4 linked regions of the Homo sapiens genome follow. The protein of the gene in region 2 purifies or fractionates together with the protein of the main gene of each other region. This does not show direct contact. Each region holds a gene or a part of one and is shown on either strand. Other genes may lie near its edges.

What was found.
Region 1: the proteins of CHST7 (region 2) and GOSR1 purify together in Homo sapiens (affinity purification with mass spectrometry; one large-scale study listed by BioGRID and IntAct). This does not show direct contact.
Region 3: the proteins of CHST7 (region 2) and NSUN4 purify together in Homo sapiens (affinity purification with mass spectrometry; one large-scale study listed by BioGRID and IntAct). This does not show direct contact.
Region 4: the proteins of CHST7 (region 2) and DCAF4 purify together in Homo sapiens (co-immunoprecipitation; one large-scale study listed by IntAct). This does not show direct contact.

What each region holds. Positions count from the first base shown.
Region 1 is NC_000017.11:30,480,338-30,483,909, reverse strand, and holds part of GOSR1 (Golgi SNAP receptor complex member 1), read right to left. Parts: intron 2,768-3,572; coding exon 2,653-2,767; coding exon of another isoform or gene 2,647-2,652; intron 1-2,646. UniProt on the Homo sapiens protein: Involved in transport from the ER to the Golgi apparatus as well as in intra-Golgi transport. It belongs to a super-family of proteins called t-SNAREs or soluble NSF (N-ethylmaleimide-sensitive factor) attachment protein receptor.
Region 2 is NC_000023.11:46,591,357-46,594,928, reverse strand, and holds part of CHST7 (carbohydrate sulfotransferase 7), read right to left. Parts: intron 1-3,572.
Region 3 is NC_000001.11:46,350,740-46,354,311, reverse strand, and holds part of NSUN4 (5-cytosine rRNA methyltransferase NSUN4), read right to left. Parts: intron 1,445-3,572; coding exon 1,284-1,444; intron 1-1,283. UniProt on the Homo sapiens protein: Mitochondrial RNA cytosine C(5)-methyltransferase that methylates cytosine to 5-methylcytosine (m5C) in various RNAs, such as rRNAs, mRNAs and some long non-coding RNAs (lncRNAs).
Region 4 is NC_000014.9:72,957,455-72,960,266, reverse strand, and holds the end of DCAF4 (DDB1- and CUL4-associated factor 4), read right to left. Parts: intron 1,656-2,812; coding exon 1,462-1,655; 3' UTR 564-1,461; downstream 1-563. UniProt on the Homo sapiens protein: May function as a substrate receptor for CUL4-DDB1 E3 ubiquitin-protein ligase complex.

The sequences.
Region 1 (3,572 bases), on a different chromosome or scaffold from region 2:
AGCCATGTCCTGCATGCTTTGGTACTAATCTTCTCCATTTTCACTTACAGTATGCAATCATCCTTTTGTTTTGTAGAATTGTGTTAAATTGCCTTTTCAAATCTGAATAGTCAAAAATCTATCTTTTTACAAGTGAAACTTAGGTTTGACAGATTCAAATTCTAAACCCACCTGTCCTCAGTGTTTCTTTTGCCTTTTCCAAAACACCACTAACCTTCATCAGGTTAGGTATGTATTAGCATCTGATGAGCAGCTCAATACAGATCAGAGTTATACTGGACACAGATAAATGCCCAGGCAATGACTATAGTCTCCAATCTTACTGAAGACTTTGTGCTACCCTGTGACAGTGCCTGGGTGTGGCAAATGAAAAGTATTAAATAAATGCTCTGTAGACTACTAATATAAATCCTCCTCTACCAGATATATGAAAAAGAACAATATGCCAATAGAATTAAAGCTTCATGAAGGAAGGAAAAAACTGCTCTGTCTTATTCATAGATATATGCCTAGCACCTAGTATACAGCCTGGCACATAGTAGATGCTCATTAAACTTCTGCTGAATAAATGAATGAACACGAGAGCAATCTCTACTACTGGTTATTCTATACTCATTGTATTCATATATTCATCAGGACAGTGTAAGAGTAAAGGGAAATGGCCAAACACTAATTCTTCACAATACTGGGATTCAGTTAAATTTAATTCATCTTATAGGTGGGTAATGATTCATAGACCTTGAAGTTCTCAAAATACAGAAAGTTAAAAAAAAAAAAAAAAAGAAAGAAAGATGCCTGGAATAAATAATATTCTAGTTATTGCTTAGTTGACTCATAGTGACATGCTTCCAACCTGGGCATCAAACAAGACACTTTAGAATAGACATCAAATCCTGATCCTCATGGCCTTAGGTTTTTATTTAGAAGGGGAGTTAGGCTGAAGTAATTCTACAAAGCCAGTTTCAGTTTGTGGTAGAATTTCTTGGGAAATGTTTTCAAGATAGTTTTTCCTTTAGAGGAATAACAAAAGTATTAGTTCATGAAGCACACAGAACATAGAAAATGCATAGAAAGAACATTCTTCATTCTCTTTACTTGCTAAATAAAGCCAAGCCCAAAGCAATGCAATCTATTTGATGTGTTAGTAATTTATTTTTAGATCCTAGAGTCAATGTTGGCCTTGCTGCCTTTACAACCAAGGAGTCCTTATGAAAAAGAAATAGTAATTTGGCTATAGTGTTGAAATCAGCTTTTTGTTCAAATGTATACACTATAGTAGGGTTTAGAGTGTGGGCTCTGGAGATAGATCTAGATTCAAATCTAAGCTCAGATTTCATTGTTTTTATTAGCTGACAAATATCCTACTCACTTCTAATCTTTGAAAAAGTATGTAAAATAAGTGTGGATTAACAACAACTCTGCTACCAGCAATTTCACCGCTAGGTATATAGAAACATTCTGCGTAAAAATGTTCCCAGCAGCATTTATAGAAAGCTCTTACCTAACATATAATGAACACTCTTATGTCAGCTATCAAAATTATTATTAATTAGCAAAAATTAGAAACAATGGCCATCATCAAATGGTTAAACTGTGATAGTCATAAAATACTACATATGAATTACAAATGAATATACCAGAGTTAAATGAATCCATAGCTGAATCTCAAAAATGTTAAAGAAAAAGTTGTAGAATAACTATATTATATATATACTATATAACATAATAGAATACTATGAATTGCTCAGGAATATAAACATGCAGTAAGAATATATGTGGATTATGGGGTGGGAGAAAGTGGGGTGCCATAAGGGGCTTCAGTGGAATGAGTAATTATCATTTTTTAAAAATGGGAGATAGGGTCATGGGGGTTCATGATATTATTCTTTGTAACTGTCTTAAATATTGCCTAATTAAAAAATTTTTTTTTATTTCTATTTTTTTTAGAGACAGGGTTTCACCATGTTGCCCAGGCTAGTCTTGAACTCCTGGGCTCAAGTGATCCATCCGCCTCAACCTCCTAAAGTCCCGGGATTACACGCGTCATCTACTGTGCCTGGCTACTCCCAATATTTTCTTGAAACAAGTGGATGACTTACAGAGAGCATAAGCTTCAAAGATAAGAATGTATTTTCCATACATTTAATATGGTAATACACTAGTTTCCCAAAAAAGTACCAAAATTAAAGATAGCTTTGATAATTAATAACAAGGATACACAGTGCATTAGATACCCTCTAATACAATAAACACCAGAAAAGCAGTATGTATACCTGGCACCTGGGTAGATCCACAGGTCCATTTAGCAATTGAAAAACACAAGAAATACATGCCACACGGGCAAATCAGCCACCTTTTCCCTACACTGGCTGAATTAGACACTTATATTTTTGATACAAACTTATTCTGAAGTTCTAGCAGGTTTCTTCTGACACTGTAACAATCTTTGCCTAAGGATTCCAAATAAATGCTAGTCTCGAGAATTCAGAAGAATTTTAATAAGTCACTAAAAAATAAAACAATGAATGGCAAAACAAAACACCAAAAATTCACCAATAGACCAACTTACAGAAGTTATATATTTTAGTTTATTTTTTAATGCTTTAAAAACACAGTTAAGGCATAGGAGACAGAATCTGGTAGTACCTATACCTGTCGCGTCTTCCATCTCGGGTACTGCTATGACTGTAACTTGTACATAGTTTGCTGAAGGAAACTAGTTTCAGGTCAAGTTCATTTTCCAGCTGTCGAGCCTGTTTCCTGAGATCTTTAACAAAATTATAACAACAAATAATTAGACATAAAAAGTAGACACAAAAATCACAGCACCATTCTAAAGAAAACAAACTATGAAAATGATCATATACTGATCTTGTTACCCCCATAAAGAAAAGTGTTGGCTGGGCACGGTGGTGCACGCCTGTAATCCCACCACTTTGGGAGGCCAAGGTGGGCGGATCACCTGAGGTCGGGAGTTTGAGACCAGCCTGATCAACATGGAGAAACCCTATCTCTACTAAAAATAGAAAATTAGCCAGGTGTGGTGGCGCACGCCTGTAATCCCAGCTACTCGGAAGGCTGAGGCAGGAGAATCGCTTGAACGCAGGAGGCAGAGGTTGCGGTGAGCCAAGATTGCGCCATCGTACTCCAGCCTGGGTAACAAGAACAAAACTATGTCTCAAAAAAAGGAAAATAAAAGTCTTAAAAGAAGGAAACCAAGGACTTGCCCAGCAAAGCAGATTAGTCACTTATAAACTTCAGAGGGGGCAAGAAGGGAAATAGTAATGGTAGATGCAACTTCGCAGCTTTACTCCAAAGATGGCTAGAAAACAAATGTTGTTCTATCCTTCCTGAAACTATTTGTATAGCAATAACTAAAATTCTGCAATTCAGAGAAAAACAAGAAGATAATACAAATCACAAAGGAACTAAAAATATGGTTTATGACCAGCATTATCAACTTACCAGTTAATGTTATAAGAAAGAAGCCATTATTCTTTTGAAAGGGATTTTGCTTTTTATGTTCCAAAGCTTTATTAGGCTTATGAACTTCTTTTCATAATAGCAAAATG
Region 2 (3,572 bases):
AAACAGAGCCTCAGGGGCCTGTGGAACCATAATAAATGATCTATCATGCATGTCATCAAAGTTCCAGAAAAAGAGACTGAAAAAGTACTTGAAATATGGCTGAAAGTTTCCCAAATTTGGCAGAAGACATAAATTTACAGATTCAAGAACTTGAGCAAACCCCAAAGAAGAAAAGCTCAAAGAAATCTACACCAAGCCATGGCATAGTCAAACTTCAGCAAAGTAAAGACAAAAAAATCCTGAAGGCAACTAGAGAGAAATGACACATTAATTATGGGAACAACAATATGAATGCCAACGGATTTTGTATCTGAAAGCATGGGGGTCAGAAGGAGGTGACACGACAGTTTTCAAGTGCTGAAAGAAAATATCTGCCAATCCAGATTTTTCTTTTTTTTTTTTTTTGGACAGAGTCTCACTGTCACCCAGGCTGGAGTGCAGTGGCGTGATCTTGGCTCACTGCAACCTCCGCCTCCTGGGTTCAGATGATTCTCATTCCTTGGTCTTCCAAGTAGCTGGATTACAGGTGCCCGTCACCACACCCAGCTAATTTTTGTATTTTTAGTAGAGATGGGGTTTCGCCACGTTGGCCAGGCTGGTCTTGAACTCCTGACCTCAAGTGATCCACCTGCCTTGGCCTCCCAAAGTGCTGGGATCACAGGAGTGAGCCACAGTGCCCAGCCTCGATCCAGATTTCTATATCCCATGATAATATCCTTCAGGAATGAAGGTGAAATAAAGACATTTTCACATGAAAGAAAACTAAGATAATTTTTGCCAACAGAACTTTTATAAAAGAACTGCTAAAGTTCTTCCCCAGAGAAAGGAAATGACAAAAGGAGGCTTGAAATATCACAAATGAAGAAAGAACAACGGAAAGGTAAAATATGAGTAAATTTAATAAACTATTCTCTTGAGTTTTTAAAATTATTTTTGATGGTTGAGGCAAAGTAACATTGTATGATGTGGTTCTCAATATATGTAGAGAAAATTTTTAAGAGACTATTTAAGGGGCAGGATAAAGGAACCTAAATGGAGATTAGTTTTCTACATTTCATTGGAGGTAGTAAGATGTTGACACCAGTAGGCTGTGATAAGTTACACATGTATAATTCAAGGAAACCACTAAAATAAACATACAAAGAGATACCCTCAAAAACACTACAGATAAAATGAAATTCTAAAAAATGTTGAAGTAACTCAAAGGAAGACAGGAAAAGGAAAACAAAGGAATAAAAACAGAGGGAACAAACAAATCAAATTGAAGTCCTAAAATATCAATAATTAGATTAAGTATAAATGGTTTAAATACATAAACTAAAAGAGATTGGCAAAATGGATTTAAAAACATTACCATTAATTTCTAATATAATGAGATGGGCTGAAAGTAAAAGGCTGAAAAGGATACACCATACAAACATTAATCAAAAGAAAGGAAGAGTAGCTATATTAATATTAGATAAAATAGACTTCAGAGCAAAGAAAATTACCAGGGACAAAGAAGAATGTTACATAAGGTTTAAAAGGTCAATCCAAAAACAAGTTATAGCAATCCTAAATATGTACAGAGCAAATAGCAGAGCTTCAAATTTCCTGAGGCAAAAACTGAAAGAACAGAAAGAAGAAATGGACGAGTCTATAGTTGAAAACTTCAACACCATTCTTTCAACAAATGATGGACTCACTAGACAGAGAGTCAGTAAGGATACAGAAGGACTGAACAGTACCATCAACCAACAGAATTGAACTGACATTTATAGAACATTCCACCTATTAACAGAATACACATTATTTTTAGGTATACATGGAACATTCACAACATGAACCTATCCTGGTCCACAAAACAAATCTGAACAAATGTTTAAAAATTGAAATAATAATAATAAATTAAATAACCATAGTGTAATCAAACTAGAAGTCAATAACAGAAAGATAGCAGGAAATTATCCAGAAATTTTAAAATTAAAGAACATACTTAAATATAATTCATTGAAAATAAAACTATATTGAATGAAAATGCAACATCAAAATTTGTGAAGCTAAGAGGAAAATGTGTAACACTAGATACATACATGAGAAAAAAAGATCTCAAATCAATAATCTATGTACTTACCTCAAGAAACTAGATGATTAAAAAAACCCAAAACAAGCAGAAGTAAGGAAATAATTAAGATAAAAGGAGAAATCAGTAAAACTGAAAACAAAAACAATCAAAATACAATGAAACAAAAAGCTGGTACTTTGAAAAGATCAAAAAACCTCTATCAGCCAGGTACAGTGGCTCATGCCTGTAATCCCAGCACTTTGGAAGGCCAAGGCGGGTGGATCACTTGAGGCCAGGAGTTCGAGACCAGCCTGGCCAACATGGCAAAACCCTGTCTCTACAAAAAATACAAAAATTAGCCGGGTGTGGTGACGAGCACTTGTAGTCCCAGCTACTCAGGAGGCTGAGGCAGGAGAATTGCTCGAACCCAGAAGGCGGGTGAGCTGAGATTGCATCACTGTACTCCAGCCTGGGCAATGGGAGTGAGACCCTGTCTCAAAACAAAACAAAACAAAAAACAAAAACAAACAAAAACAGAAAACAAACAAAAAACTTCTATCAAGACTGACAACAGAAAAAGAGAAGACAAACATTACCAGTATCAGCAATGAAACAGGGGTTTTCATTACAGACACCACAGACATTAAAAGGCAAAAGAAAAAAAAATTACTAAAAACAACTCTACATCCATTAATTTGACAATTTAGATGAAATGGACCAATTCCTCAAAAAGCACAAACTACTATAACTCACCCAATATGAAATAGATAATTTGAAAAGTCCTGTAACTACTAAAAAATTGAATTAATAGTTAAAAGGCTCTTGAAAAAGAAATCTCATTCACGTCCTTTGCTGGGACATGGATGAAGCTGGAAACCATCATCCTCAGCAAACTAACACAGGAACAGAAAACCAAACAGCAAATGTTCTCACTCATAAGTGGGAGCTGAACAATGAGAACAGATGGACATAGGGAGGGGAACGTCACATACTGGGGCCTGTCAGGGGGTGTGGGGCAATGGGAGGGAGAGCATTAGGACAAATATCTAATGCACGCGGGGCTTAAAACCTAGATGATGGCTTGATAGGTGCAGCAAACCACCATGGCACATGTATACCTATGTAACAAACCTGCATGTTCAGCACATATATCCCAGAACTTAAAGTAAAATAAAATAAAAAAGAGATTTTTTTTAAAAAAAGAAATCTCGGCCAGGCGCGGTGGCTCACGCCTGTAATCTCAGCACTTTGGGAGGCTGAGGCGGGCAGATCACTTGAGGTTAGGAGTTCCAGACCAGCCTGGCCAACATGGTGAAACCCTGTTTCTACTAAAAATACAAAAACTAGCTGGGTGTGATGGCGCACCCCTGTAATCCCAGCTACTGGGGAGGCTGAGGCAGGAGAATCGCTTGAACCCAGGAGGCAGCGGTTGCAGCGAGCCGAGATCGCACCACTGCACTCCAACCTGCGCGACAGAGTGAGACTCCATCTGAAAAAAATAAAATAAAAATAAAATGAAATATAGTGA
Region 3 (3,572 bases), on a different chromosome or scaffold from region 2:
GCCTGGGCAACATAGTGAGACCCCGTCTCTACAAAAAATCATTTGCTGGGCATGGTGGCACACTCTAGTCCCAGCTACTCGGGAAACTGAGGCAGGAGGACCCCTTGAGCCCAGGAGGTTGAGGCTGCAGTGAGCCGTGTTCACACCACTGTACTCCAGCCTGGGTGACAAAGTGAAAACCTGCCACTCAAAAAAAAAAAACTTTAAAAAAATTAATATGGAGATTTTCAACATGATTAATAAGAGATTGTAAATTAGATACTATCCATTTGGCAAAAAAATTAAGTTTGATAGCACCAATATTGGCAGCATGTGGGAAATCAGTACTCATTCATTACCAGTAGGAGTGAAACTGGTTTAACCTCCACAGAGAAATTTAGCAATCGCTATCAAAATCTTAAATGGATGTAAACTGTTATTCAACAACTATACTTCCACAATGTCAACAAAATTAAAAAAGGATTTAACCCCAGGACACATTATTAAATAAAAAAATACAAAGTTCAGAATAGTGAGTATAATATAATATACTACCGGCTGGGCGCAGTGGCTCACGCCTGTAATCCTAGCACTTTGGGAGGCCGAGGCGGGTGGATCACGAGGTCAGGAGGTCAAGACCAGCCTGGCCAAGATGGTGAAGCCCCGTCTCTACTAAAAAAAATACAAAAATTAGCCGGGCGTGGTGGTGGGCGCTTGTAATCCCAGCTACTCGGGAGGCTGAGGCAGAGAATTGCTTGAACCCAGGAGGCGGAGGCTGCAGTGAGCAGAGATCGCGCCATTGCACTCCAGCCTGGGCAACAAAAGCGAAACTCCGTCTCAAAAAAAAAAAAGAAACAATCGTTATCTATAGGGTGGGGAAGTAGGGGGCTACAGGCCAGATGAGAAAAACTCACTTTTCATTGGATACTCTTTTGTGCCTTCTGAATTTTGTACCATGTGCTGTACTAACATTCAAAAATAAATAAATGAGCTTATTCTTACTTACCTTCATGAGGCTTTCTGAGCAACCAAGTGACTTGAGAAATAAAGTAAGCCTAGTAAATTTTTCCCCTACTCAAATAGTTTCAAATTCTTTTTTGCTGCCAACTATCTTTAATAGAGATAATAACCAGTCATCTAAGCTGATTTTTCTTTTGGTCAAATCACCAATGTAGAACTGGCCAGTCCAGAAACAGCTCTACATGCTCAAACATAGGGGCTGGATCCTAACCCCTCAGGCCCTAGAACCAGGATGGGGAGGCCGCATTAAGCTGGATGCATGTCCTAAATCAAGAATCACTCACCCGGTCATAGGTGTCCCCCTCCAGTTCTCCCCATTTCCTGCCATCCCATGAGGTAACTCGAACTTGATTTCCATCCCTGATCTCTTCAGGCACATAGCTGTGAAGGATCTTCTGTAGTCTGGCTATTCGGGACGGGGAGAGATCATTGGCAGCAAGATTGCCTATGGAAATAAAGATACTTCAGAGGCCATGACCCAATGAAACATTCCACCAGCAATGGCGCTGATGGAGTCAGACCAATTCTCAGGTAGTCCCAGCCAATGCAAACCCCAGCATCAGGAACATTTATTATGTGCATGGCACAGCATCAGTCATTCTGAGTGGGGGTACAATGGCAAACACCTAAATGGGCCAGAAAGTATCAAAGTTATTTAAGTCAATGAATAAAGCAGACCAAGTAAGACTCCTTTCCTTTCTCCTTTCCTGTCCTCTCTCCCCTTTCTCCCCTTTCTTTCCCCTTTCCCCTTTTCCTTTCCCCATTACTTTCGCCTTTCTTCTCTCCTTTCCCTCTCCCCTTTCCTCCCTTTCCTTTCTCTCCTTTTCTTTCTCTCCCTCTCTTTCCTTTTGTTTTTTTTTTAAGACAGAGTCTCATTCTGTCGCCCAGGCTGGAGTTCAGTGGCACACTCTCAGCTCACTGCAACCTCCACCTCCTGGGTTCAAGTGATTATCATGCCTTAGCCTCCTGAGTAGCTGGGACTATGGGTGTGCACCACTATACCCGGCTAATTTTTGCATTTTTAGTAGAGACAGCATTTCACCATGTTGGCCAGGCTGGTCTTGAACTCCTGACCTCAGGTGATCCCGCCTGCCTTGGCCTCCCAAAGTGCTAGGATTACAGGTGTGAGCCACTGCACCCAGCCACATTCTTTTTTTTTTTTTTTAAAGACAGGGTCTCTGAGTCTGGGCATAGTGGCTCACGCCTCTCATCCCAGCACTTTGGGAGGACGCCAAAGTAGGTGGATTGCTTCAGCCCAGGAGTTCAAGACCAGCCTGGGCAACATAGCGATACCTCATTTCTACAAAAATAAAAATATATTTAAATAATTTTTTAAAAAGAGACTGGAAGGCCAGGCACGGTGGCTCACACCTGTAATCCCAGCACTTTGGGAGGACAAGGCAGGCGGATCACAAGGTCAGGAGATCGAGACCATCCTGGCTAACATGGTGAAACCCCGTCTCTACTAAAAATACAAAAAATTAGCCGGGCATGGGGGTGGGTACCTGTAGTCCCAGCTACTCGGGAGGCTGAGGCAGGGGAAAGGCGTGAACCCGGGAGGCAGAGCTTGCAGTGAGCCGAGATGGCGCCACTGCATTCCAGCCTGGGCGACAGAGCAAGGCTCCATCTCAAAAAAAAAAAAAAAAAAAAAAAGAGACTGGGTCTCACTATGTTGCCCAGGTAGGTCTTGAATTCCTGGCCTCAAGCAATTCTCCCACCTCAGCCTCCCAAAGTGCTGGGATGATGGGTGTGGGCCACCATGCCCAGCCAAGAATATTTATTTCTAAAAAAATATGCTCTCCCACTATTCTGGAAACCTATGGCTCTCTTCATCTTTGGTAGATACTACAGTTTATTTAGCCAAAATCATTCTCCTCTTCCTCCTTATTAATAGAACCCCAATTTTTTGGAAGGGGAAAATTGCCCCAAAAGACTACATTTCTCAACCTTTCTTTAGTTTCGCTCTTGTTGCCCAGGCTAGAGTGCAATGGCGCGATCTCGGCTTACCATAACCTCCGCCTCCCGGGTTCAAGCGATTCTCCTGCCTCAGCCTCCCGAGTAGCTGGGATTACAGGCATGCGCCACCACGCCGGCAAATTTTGTATTTTTAGTAGAGACGGGGTTTCTCCATGTTGGTCAGGCTGGTCTTGAACTCCCGACCTCAGGTGATCTGCCTGCGTCGGCCTCCCAAAGTGCTGGGATTACAGGTGTGAGCCACCACACCCGGCTAAGCCTTTCTTTTACAACTAAGTATGACTATATGACTAACTTTTGGTCATAGTTGTAGGCATAAGTATTGGATAGGAATTCTGGGAAGATATTTTTAAAAGGCTGACATAATTGGGAGATGAAATGAGTCTCTTTTGCCCAATCCTTTCCTCTTGACTCAAATATGGATGTGATGGCTGGACTTCCAGCAGTCATTCTGGACCATGAGGCCTTGCCTTAGAGCTTTACTAGTTACATATCTTCTCCCTCTTAAAGGGAGGGAGGCTAAGGCTGACACTAGCAACAAAATACGTTGCAAAAGGAAAAAGGGAGCTTAAGTCCCTGATAATTGTGGAGCCTCCATA
Region 4 (2,812 bases), on a different chromosome or scaffold from region 2:
GAGGCAGGAGAATCACTAGAACCCAGGAGGTGGAGGGTGCGGTGAGAGCGCCATTGCACTCCAGCCTGGGCAACAAGTATAAAACACCATCTCAAAAAAAAAAAAAAAATTTGGTTCTTTATAGAATATGCTGTATTAGTCAGGGTACTGGCAGGAAACATTCAAGTGGGTAACTGCGAGTCTACCTAGTGAGGCATTCTGGGCCAGCAACAGTGAGGTGTGATGACCAGCTGTAGGTCTGAAGGGACAAATGAAGAGTTGCTGGAACCCGGCTCTCTCTGAGCGCTTTCCAATAGAAGTGGTGGGTTTTGGTTACAGCCACCCACAGCCCAACCAGAAGGGAGCCGGGGAACCACTCCCTCTCCTCTTGCCCTCTGTGTTCTACTGCTGCTTCCCACTGGCTGAACCTACCTAGCTGCTGGGAGCCAGGGAACCCTGACCTAGTCCAGAGGTGAGTCTTTTGGGCATGCACAGAGCAGGGTGGAGATGGACAGATGATGAGGGCAGAGTGGGTCTGGAGGGGCCCAGGGAAGCTCTCCAGGAAGGCTATGAAAGCTGGTCCCAGCAGCCCAAGCTCATGATCTCCTAAGTCATTCACAGAAGTGCATGTCACACCATGATTCTTCTCTTGGTTTTATTGTTTGGTAGAAAAACAGGCTCTTTAACACTGAATAAACATCTCACGAACTGTCGCTCCTAGATTACAAAAAGTCAAAACCAATTTCCTTTGACGCCGGGCCCTTGAATCTGACATTCAAGTCACCGTAATAGAAACCAGAGCTGCTGAACCTTACATTCTGGAAGGTGCTTGAACAAAGGCATGTTAAGGACCGTTTAAAACTTCTAGCATGTAAGAAGATCCATCTTTCCTTCCAACGCCTTTGGATAATAACAGCAGAATCCCGGAGATCTGCTGCTGAGTTTGAGAAGGCCAAGTTTAAGGATTCCAAACTCCAGCCTTCAATATTTCTGCAGAAACTTAGAGAAGTAACCTCCCCGTCCTCTCCGCTGGCTTCCCCAAGTACAGATGCAGGATGCAGGTCTTTCTTCCTGCTACCCAGGCACCGAGGACTCAAACCATCTCACCGTCTCATCACTGGGCTTCTTCAATGGGCTCTTGGAGGAAGAAGCTTTTCGTTTTTGCCAATCTTCAGTCCTTAGAAAAGTCCTTTTTGTTAAGAAAAGGCAGGGAGGGTTAACTAAGTTCTAAGAATTCAATAAGAAAAGGAAAGAGGTACCTTTTATGAAAAGGACTTCCAAGCTCTCTCAGCCAGCAATTTAACTCAAATAACTTTCCTGAGCATCTCCACACGGAACATTCAGCACTTCTCTCCTAGCAGCCAGAGGATGGGATCTGTGTACACTGAGTGTCACTTAAAACACCCTCATTAGATGCAGTAAAAAGTTACGCTTTACTCCCGTAAGTCAAATCCACATGGCTCTGGGCTGTGCCCTGCAGAATTAGCTGTAGGAGTAACAGTAAAGGTCCTGCCCGACAGCCATGAGCAGCCCCGGCGCGCCCCGGGAGCCCCCCAGCCGCGACGAGAAGGCCACACTGGGAATGTCGGCCTTGGAGGCAGGGTACGGGGAGGGTATGGTTCTCAGTAGGCGGGCATCGTGGAGGCTCCAGATTCTCGTGTAGCAGTCCTGGCCCACTAGGAAAGAGGAGAGACACATGGCAGGCTAGTGAGAGAATGCAAAGGAAAACTTACCTACATGTGGACATGGCTTCCCAAGATTCCTCAGGGCTGTGATTTCATGTGAGCCAAAACACAAACTCATTAACGGACAGTATTTCTACGGATAACCCAAGTCGCCCTGTTGTGCTAGAACAATGACAAGATGCCCTGGTTGGCTGTGTGATGCCATGAATGGCTCGGAGACATCCTGGCTAATGTCTGGGTATTCTGCTGCTCTTGATGTCACGGAACGTTCAAGTGCGAGTGTGGCCCACCTGGTCTAGGTGACATGCAACTGATTTCCCCCATTTTTTAGGGACAGGGTCTTGCTCTGTCGCCCGGGCTGGAGTGCAGTGGTGTGATCAGGGCTCACTGCAGCCTTGAACTCCTGGGCCCAAGCCATCCTTCTGCCTCAGCCTCCTGAGTTAACTGGGACTACAAGTGTGTGCCGCCATGCCTAATTTTTTTTTTTTTTGAGATAGGGTCTTGCTGTGTTGCCCCAGCTGGTCTTAAACTCCTGGCCTCAAGCTCCCTAAGTGCTGGAATTATAGCTACCACACCTGGCCTGATCTTTTCATGTTATAGTAAAAGATCTGTCAAAGTCATTACATCCTGGGGATGGGCTAGGTTGACAACTCTCCCCACAGCTCTTTCTGGTTTAATGCTTCAGTTCCTAGGACCGGTTTAAGTCTTCAGGGCTCCAGTTCTGAGGACTGTGACACACAACAGCATGGGTTACAGCAGCCCAGAAACATGATATACACTACTGGAGACCTTCAGCAGGAGAAGAGGACAGGCCTTGGGCAGTCATGGATTTCACATTTGTGATTCTGATCACTTGTGTGGCTCTAAGACCAGAAGTGCTATCTTGGCTGAAGCTGAATCCCGGCTGCAGTTTATTACTGCAGCTGGTAACTACCTGCATCTGCCTCTCAGCAAGGCTGAGCTCTCTCTATCATCCAGCTCACAAGAGCTCTTCTGTGATAAAAACAGGTGAAAAATCGACTTAAAAAGGAGGCGAAGTCCTGGTGTTGATGAGAATAGTAAATAAGTCTATGAATGTCCTAACAAAGTAATGCTTCCTAGCCACAAAAATGTTCCATGGGGTATAAGCCCTTTCTATAGGAATACCA